2 separate regions of the Homo sapiens genome follow, and region 1 is linked to region 2. The links come from fine-mapping of genetic effects on gene expression. A gene starts in region 2. The other region holds a variant in brackets. All regions are shown on one strand. Distances are from middle to middle.

The links.
Region 1: its variant is fine-mapped to the expression of BRPF1 in whole blood (TOPMed, PIP above 0.99).

Annotation. Positions count from the first base shown.
Region 1 is chr3:9,751,703-9,756,086 of GRCh38, reverse strand. OGG1 (8-oxoguanine DNA glycosylase) reads right to left here. Exons shown (of 7, transcript NM_002542.6): 3 at 4,138-4,317; 4 at 1,202-1,383. Among named protein-coding and RNA genes, the nearest start is that of OGG1, 3.9 kb to the right of the region's middle. The variant C/T (reference allele first, on the strand shown) is at 2,576.
Region 2 is chr3:9,729,716-9,734,099 of GRCh38, reverse strand. It overlaps BRPF1 (bromodomain and PHD finger containing 1), which reads right to left and starts at 2,365. Exons shown (of 14, transcript NM_001003694.2): 1 at 1,962-2,365. CPNE9 (copine family member 9) reads right to left here. Exons shown (of 21, transcript NM_153635.3): 21 at 4,192-4,384. RefSeq lists enhancers at 1,250-1,809, 2,370-2,929 and silencers at 1,887-2,016, 2,027-2,076, 2,547-2,906.

The DNA of each region.
Region 1 (4,384 bases), 22 kb before region 2:
CCTTGGCCTCCCAAAGTGCTGGGATTACAGGCGTGAGCCACCATGCGCGGCCTATGAATACACTGAAATTGCTGTAATAAGAGGTGCTACTAGCTGAACACCTATGTGGGCCAGGTTATCATAACCTGGGAAGAAGGTATTACCACACCCACTTTACAGACAAGAAAACTGAGGCTTTGAAAGGTGAAGTGACCTGGCCAAAGTCACATGGCTGAGAATAGGCAGAACCAAGATTTAATGTTAGGCTGTAGTCCAAAGCCCATCAAAAAAAAATCTTTAAGCAAAAATTCATTTTTTAAACTACAGAGAAGTATAAAGAAAAAAAAAGGCTGGGTGCAGTGGCTCACGCCTGTAATCCCAGCACTTTGGGAGGCTGAGGCAGGTGGATCTCGAGGTCAGATTGAGACCATCCTGGCCCAACATGGTGAAACCCCATCTCTACTAAAAATACAAAAATTAGCTGGGTGTGGTGGCGCATGCCTGTAATCCCAGCTAATCTGGAGGCTGAGGCAGGAGAATAGCTTGAAGCCGGGAGGCGGAGGTTGCAGTGAGCCGAGATTGCACCACTGCACTCCAGCCTGGCAACAAAGCAAGACTCCACCTCAAAAAAAAAAAAAAAAAGACAAATGCCTAATTTCCAGTCATCTTATTGCCAGTTAACCCTATTGACATCAAGCAAAAAGTTTTGTCAGTACATGTCATTTTACGAAAGGAACAAAATGTGGCCGGGAGCAGTGGCTCATCCCTGTAATTCCAGCACTTTGGGAGGGCAAAGCAGGAACACTGCTTGAGGGCAAGAGTTTAAGACCAGCCTAGGCAACATTGTTAAGAGCCTATTTCTACCAAAACAAACAAACAAACAAAAAACCGAAAAGAAGAAATATCTTCCCATTTGTCTCCCCCAAGGAAACTATTATTTAGTTTCCTGCAATTTCCTTCTGGAAATTGCTGCATATATATAGCAGCATATATGTGTTGCATCTGAACAAATGGTCTTTCTAGAAATTCATTCAAAGGGCTATATCCTTTCTACTCTTTCTGCACTCTGCTTTTTTCTCTCATAAAACATCTACTTATATCCTTTCTCCTTCCTGCTCTGCCTCCGGAAGCCAAGCCTCCACCCAGCTCCCAGGCTTGGCTCATTTCCTGCTCTCCTCTTAGTGTCAGTAGAGAGGGCAGCTCCTACCCCCTGGGGCCTCACCTTGGTGCCCACTCCAGGCAGGATGCAGAGGGCCTTGTGGGCCTCCTCATATGAGGACTCTCGTAGCTGCTGCAGCCAGGCTAGCCCGCCCTGTTCTTCCAGGATGGCTCGGGCACTGGCACTCACGTAACGGGCACGATAGCCCAGGCCCAGCTTCCTGAGATGAGCCTCCACCTCTGGCCCTGCGGGGAGTGAGGAGGAGGGCAAGCATCAGGCATCTTCAAGTTCTTCCTGTCCTTAGGCTAGTAAGTGAGCTCTCTACCTCACAAGAGTGCTTTTCCTAAGTTCCCCTCCTACCTCCCCACCCTCTATGGGATAGTGGACACTTTTATGTGCAAGGGAAAGGGTTAGGCCTGGGTCCTGTCCCTCTACACATGTTTTCTGAGCACCTGCTATGAATTGGCCCCGGAGCCCAAGTCTAGTCCAGGGACTGAGGACTTGCTTCCCTTGAGGAGCTCCCCAACTGAGTTCCTTAACCTTTCCGAAAGAGTGTTCACACTCATGATCTAAAAAAATAACCACAATATAGCAACAGCTTCTATGATCAAGTGCTAGGCAACATGCTTCAGATATATTATCATGCTTACTTTTCCCAAGAACCCCACTGACAGTACTGCTGTTTTCCCATTTTACATGTGGAGAAAATGAGGGCTTAGAAGAGGTTAACTTACTTAAGAAAGGACATGGGGGAGATAAGATCTTGCACCTAGGTCTGGGACACCAAGACCTGTGCTTTTTCTTTTTTTGACACAGGGTCTTGCTCTGTCACCCAGGCTGGAATGCAGTGGCACAATCTCAGTTCACTACAGCCTTGACCTCCTAAGGCTCAAGCGATCCTCCCACCTCAGCCTCCTGAGTAGCTGAGACTACAGGCTTGTGTCACCATGCCTGGCTAATTTTGTTTATTTTTTGTAGAGATGAGGTCTCACTATGTTGCCCAGGCTGGTCTCAAACTCCTGGGCTCAAGCCATCCTCCCACCTTGGGCTCCCAAAAGTGCTGAAATTACCAGCATGAGCTACCCCACCTGGCTAACGCCGTGCTCTTAACCCATTACACTACACTGCCTCATGATTGCTTTATTCACTCCCAAAGCCCTTCTAGATAGAAACTGTTATTCCCATTCTACAAACAAGCTAAGAGAAGCCGGAAGAGGTGAATGACTTTCTTGAGGCCTTATGACTAACTAAGCCAGGAGCTGAGACTCAAGAACAGGTTTCTTTTTTTTTTTGTTGAGACAGAGTCTCACTCTGTCGCCCAGGCTGGAGTGCAGTGGCACGATCTCGGCTCACTGCAAGCTTCGCCTCCCGGGTTCACGCCATTCTCCTGCCTCAGCCTCCCAAGTAGCTGGGACTACAGGCGCCCACCACCACACC[C/T]GGCTAATTTTTTTTGTATTTTTAGTAGAGACGGGGTTTCACCGTATTAGGCAGGATGGTCTTGATCTCCTGACCTCGTGATCCACCCGCCTCGGCCTCCCAAAATGCTGGGATTACGGGTGTGAGCCACCACGCCCGGCCAGGTTTTTTTTTTTTTTTTGAGACGGAGTCTCGCCCTGTCGCCCTGTCGCCCAGGCTGGAGTGCAATGGCATGATCTCAGCTCACTGCAACCTCTGCTTCCCAGGTTCAAATGATTCTCCCGCCTCAGCCTCCTGAGTAGCTGGGATTACAGGTACCTGCCACCACGCCCAGCTAATTTTTAGCAGAGAGCGGGTTTCACCAGGTTGGCCAGTCTGGTCTCAAACTCCCGACCTCAGGTGATCCACCTGCCTCAGCCTCCCAAAGTGTTGGGATTACAGGTGTGAGCCACCGTGCCTGACCCAGGTTTCTTTTTGTTTGTTTTGAGATGGAGTCTCGCTCTGTAACCCAGGCTGGAGTGCTGTGGTCTGATCTTGGTTCACTGGAGCCTCCTGCTCCCGGGTTCAAGCAATTCTCCTGCCTCACCCTCCGGAGTAGCTGGGACAGGTGCCTGCCATCACGCCTGACTAATTTTCGTATTTTTAGTAGAGATGGGGTTTCACCATGTTGGCCAGGCTGGTCTTGAACTCCTGACCTCAGATGATCTGCCTGCCTCGACCTCCCAAAGTGTTGGGATTACAGGCGTGAGCCACCACGCCCGGCCAGGAATGGGTTTCTAAGCACCAAAAACATTCTCCTGTTTTGAGGCAGTCTGTCTCTTTGCTATGCAGTTCCCAAGCACTTGTCCTAGCTTGGTTCTCACATCTGCCAATCGATACACTTGCCTCTGTAAAACATTTGCCTTACAGGGCTACTGTGAAGAACACACGTGTTCTTAGATACAAAACTATCCCATTCACTACAATGATACCAGCTTGAATTTTTTTTTTTTTTTTTTTTTTTGAGACAGAGTCTCGCTCTGTTGCCCAGGCTGGAGACGGGGTTTCACTGTGTTAGCCAGGTGTGAGCCACTGCGCCTGGCTGATACCAGCTTGAATTTTACATATACTTCCTGTGTGCCAAACACTGTGCTAGGTGCAGTATGTATATTCCTTTCTTCAACCCTCATGACAACTCCAATAATAGCATAGGTAGGTGCTATTATTATTCTACTTCACAGATGAAGAAACTTTAGTACAGAGATGCTAAATAATGTGCCCAAGTGAGAGTTGGGGTTCAGAACCAGGCATGGGTCTGTCCCCAGAATGCATGCTCTTAACCCCAAACTACTGTACATTGTATACAGATATTTTTCTGATTAGGCATTGAACCCATTGGGCAAAAAGCACAGACCAGTGAGGTGCTGACATTTTAGGGATGCATAGGGAGGATGAGTAACTGGAGTTGATCAGACCAGGCAGGGCGGTTCTGGATAGGGGAAGTGTTTGGGAAGGCAGGAAGCCTTGAGAAGGTAACCAGGGGAGAAATGAACAGATCTTGAAAGCTGATGGAAGGCCTGGGGGCAGGGGACCCACCTACTCACCAGCCAGGGCCTGCAGGCTGGGGAAGCCATGGTAGGTGACATCATCAAGCTGGATGAGCCGAGGTCCAAAAGCCTGGCACAGCCGCTCCACCATGCCAGTGATGCGGGCGATGTTGTTGTTGGAGGAACAGATAAAAGAGAAAAGGCATTCGATGGGGTCTTGTCGCAGCAGTCGCACACCTGGAGACCAGAAATGCAGGGGGTAGGAGAGGTACCTGCTGTTGGGTGTGGCCTCTTCCCACCCACA
Region 2 (4,384 bases):
GGGGATGAGTTCCTGGCCATTTGCACCAGAGACCCCAGTCTTTCTAGCCCTCCCCCTCACTTGGAGTCACCAGATTCTGGCCAGCCTACCTCTACAGTGTCTCCAAATGCCATCTCCTCCACCATAGCCCATATCTGGGCCCTCATCACCTCTTGCCTGGTTATCCTGCCCTATGTCTCAACTTCTTTAGCCCAATCTCACATCATGTAGGAGAATGATCTTTCTACCAGGTAGTAATGATCATGACACTCTCTTCATTAAAAGCCTCCTGATGCTCCCAGTTCCTTCAAGATAATATTCCAAATTCTCTATGATGCCATTCAAAGAGCTCCTTTCACTGACTGGCCCTAGTCCTCCTTTCTTTTTACAAGTTACAGCTGTTTTTGTCTACACAGGGGATCTTGCCATTCCCTGAATGTTATAACCTCTCATTCCTGCAAAATGATCCCTATTTGGAATGCCCTCCATACTTTCTGATTGGTGGGCTCCTACTCATTCTTCAAAAAACCAGCTCAAATGTCACTTCTGACACAACTTCTCTGACTCTCCCATGGGGAGCTGTTTCCACAGCATTCCATTCTCACCTCTACCACAGCACTTGACATACTGAAAGTTGTCTCCCCCCTGGACTGGGAGCTGTGTAGCAAGGGTACCAGAGCCTATCCACCTCTGTATCCCCAGTACCTAGCATGCACTGGACATTCAGTTTTTGGCGAACGAATGAATGACCTGTTGAACGAATAGCTGAATGAGGGGATCACCAGACTGAGAGCTCAGATGGGATGAAGGCCATGTAGAAAGCTGAATGGGTGGGTGGCTAATGCTTTAGCGTTGGACTCCTGCAGAAATCACTGGATCACAGAAAGAATTCATTTACTTTTGAGGTCTTTATGGGGAGCCTGGCCCTGGTACTGGGTAGGAGATGTACTGTGAAACAAAGTGAAAACTGAGGTCATTTAGTCAGTGACAGCAGCTTGTATTACATTTGAGCTGTTCACCCACTCACACATCAACTGAGTGACTACCAAGTGCCAGGCCCTAAGGGTACAAACACGAACGCGACAATCTAGGCATGCTCAGCTCCATGCTGGTCCGCAGGGGCCCTCCCTCCCCGCTCCCCAACATTCCTGGGTGAGTGTAGACAGCAGATGGCACCAGGCCTCAGGAAGCCCAGCTTGGTCAGAGACTGCCCCAATTTCTCTCGGCCTAGTTGAGTTCAACCATTCAGCTAGGGGCTTGGCACCATCCCAGCCAGGCAGGGCTATCATGAGCTCCCTGACAAAATAACCCCTCTTGGCCTCTCCACCTGTGCCTTAACCAGGCAAGTGGGCTGCTCCAGCTCCACTGTCAACGGCTCCTGATTTTCACATCAGTAACGCTACACGTCCAACTGCAACTCTTCTATTTCCTACCTGCGGCTGTGTCTTTAAACATAAACCAACCGAAGCACAAACAAGCTCTCCTCTTTCCAAGCTGGGTCCCGGGTGAATGGTTCCCAAAGTAGCACAGCGAATCAGCAATCTCCCCTTGGAACCCGGCAGCAGAGGCACAGGCGAGGGAGACGAGAACTTAGACCAGAAAGCCCGTGGGGAGGGCCCAAGGAGAATGGCGGCTGCATCTGCCCCTGAAGCTCAGGGGGCTGGAGGAAGTAAGGGGCGGGGGCCGGAGGGATAGGGCTGGGCCCCGGCAGTGCCCGCAGCCCACTCTCCGGATGCGGCGGCGTTTCCCCTTTGTGGAAGTGTAACAAGTGAAACAAGGCTCCCCGCCTGCCACTAGCCCGGGCAGCCCCGAAAGATACACTGTTGCCCCAGGATGCCTGCTGGGAAGCAATGCACTGTCAGTTCTCCCAACTGGAGTTGCCAGAGAGGTTCCCGGGCCACGCGGCTCAGTGCGCGTCCCACGAACGTAGCCTACCCCTTCCCTGCCGGCCACTCCCGCCCTGGTCCCAGGCCCGCACTCACCGGCCACCTCGAGTCCGGGCTCATCGCCGGGGGCGCCCGCCGGGGCTCCGACCCCACTTGGGGAGGTCGGCGGGGAAAGTCGGGCCGGGAAGGGGGAGCCCCAACTCCGGAGACCGTAGACCTCGCCACCCCGGCCCCCTGCCGCCCCACGCTTTGGTCCCGGCTCCCCGGGATTCCTGAGCTGACCCCTGCCGCTCCTGGTCCCGCCGGCGCCCTGGGGTCTCAACTCCGTCGGCCGCCGCCCGTTTCGCGAGCCCCCAAGATGCCCGGTCTCGGGACCGGGCGCTGCTGGAACAATGGAGGCTCCCAGAGGCAGCGCGAGGACAGCGGCGGCGGAGACCGTGGCGGCAAAGGCTGTGGCAGCGGCGGCGGCAGCAGCGGCGGCGACGGCGTCTGCGCAGGGTAAACGTGGCGCCGCGGCGCTACTGAGCTGCACTTTCGCCACGGATCCCCGCCCGCCCGCTGAGGCTCGAAAGACCGTGCTCCGGGATTCAGAAAGGACCCTGGACACCCCACAGGGCTTCTCTAGCTCTCCCATCTTAGAGTGGAGTTTCTGGAGACTGAAGTCACCGTACTCGGGATCTGGGGTCGTCGGGCGGTTTGTGGCGAATCTGCAACCACGGACGGTGAGCGCGGGGCTGGGCGTGAGGAGCCCGCCCTTCTCCCCTCCCCCTCTGCCTCCTCCCTATCCGCTCCCTGCCTCCTGCTGGCGCCGCGGCTGCGGGAGGGACCTGGCCTTGGTCTCGGAGGAAGGCGGTGAGGCGGGGCCAGAGTCACGGGGCGGGGCTGGGGGCAGGGCCGGGAGCAAGAGGGATGCGGGCTGGAGCCTAAGGGACCGGTAGTTATGGGTAGGACCGGGGCGGGGCTGGAGACTAGACCGGTCTGTGGGGCGGGGCTTGTGGGAGGGGGCGGGGCTACCGCACAGCGGGGGCCTGTTAGAATAGCGGGGTAAAAAGTGGGGCTAAACAGAAGAAGAGTACTCGCGAGAGAAAGGGCGGAGCTTTGGATGAGCCTGGAAAGTGGAGCTGGACTAGAAATAAAGAACAAAGTTGGAAAAAGCGATGCGACGCTGAAGGGAGCAGGCGGGGCTTGGTAAGGCAGGGGCGGAGCTGTGGGGAAAGGGCAGGACCGATTAGGGATAACGGGGCGTGACTGAAGGAAAGGGAAGAAACTTGGGAAAAGTAAAGGAGAGGTGCTAGAGAAAAGGTATGGGTCTGAGAGAAGGGGCTGGTTTGGGGCCGGTGGGTGTGAAAGGGCTTGTCTGGTAAAGCGGTGGGAAATCTGTGGGTTGGCAGGGATGTGCTGCGGGTTGCTGATTGGAACATGGTGCCAAAACAGCTGATTTAATGTGAGTGGGTCACCTCCTAGCAATGTGAACGTGGGCAAGTTCAGTTCTTTAAGTTCCTTATTTGTAAAACAGAGCTCGAAAACTCTGTTGTTAGTTCTTGAGGGTTTCAGAGAACTTGCATGGCAGGGGGAGACATCCTTAAACAATACTTCTCCAGTTTTGTCATCAAAGAGGAGCGTGAAAGGTCTTCCAGGGTTCTGGGACAAAGCCCAAAGCATCTGAAAGCTTCTATCTTCTTAATGCAAACTTTGCATTTGACCCAATAAAATGTATGTTTTCTAAAAACCATCCCAATAAAATCGACATGCCAGGAAGAGGTTTGCTGATTAAGATCTTGGGATCTGAAGTCAAACTGATGAATTATCTTAAATGACTCATCTTCTCAGAGCCTCAGTTTCCTTATGGGTAAAGTGGGAATAATATATAGTACCTGTTCTCAGAGTTGTTGTGAGAATTAAATGAGATGATGCTTGTAAATCACCTAGCACACGGTTTGACATGTAGTGAATGTTCAAAGAAAATATTAGCTGTTATTATCCTTATTAAAATAATTCAGAATAGATGGATCAAAGCAGAGTTATACTAAGTTATCTCCTTTAGTGGTCAGGAATTCGTTTGAGAATCTGCTGAGAACTATGGGTCGTGTGTAGGATTCGGATTTTATGGAAAAAAGAAAAAAAACAACTATGGGCCTCTCTCCTGAGGAAAAACATACAAAGTTTCACTTATTAAGGTCTTTGAAGAATGTATGAAGAAGTGATTGGATGAACGTGTTAGGATGGGGATGAATCTAACTGAAGCCATCCTGGTTCCCTCCCTCTTGATGTGGCCCCAGTCGTTGGGTCCCATAGTCTTCCTTCGCCAACATGCATGAGACAGAGGTGGAATAAAGATCAGCTTTATTATTGGCATGAAGGCAGAGAGGTGGTGATAGTGCCAGGCCCTCTGCAGGCAAGGAGGCGGAGGGCTTGTCAGCCAGCACTGATCCTCCAAGTTGGCCCTCCCAGTGAAGTCCAGGGTTCCAGGTGCCTCTGGCTTAAAGCAGAAGCAGTGGGTGAGCAGGCTTGCAGACTGT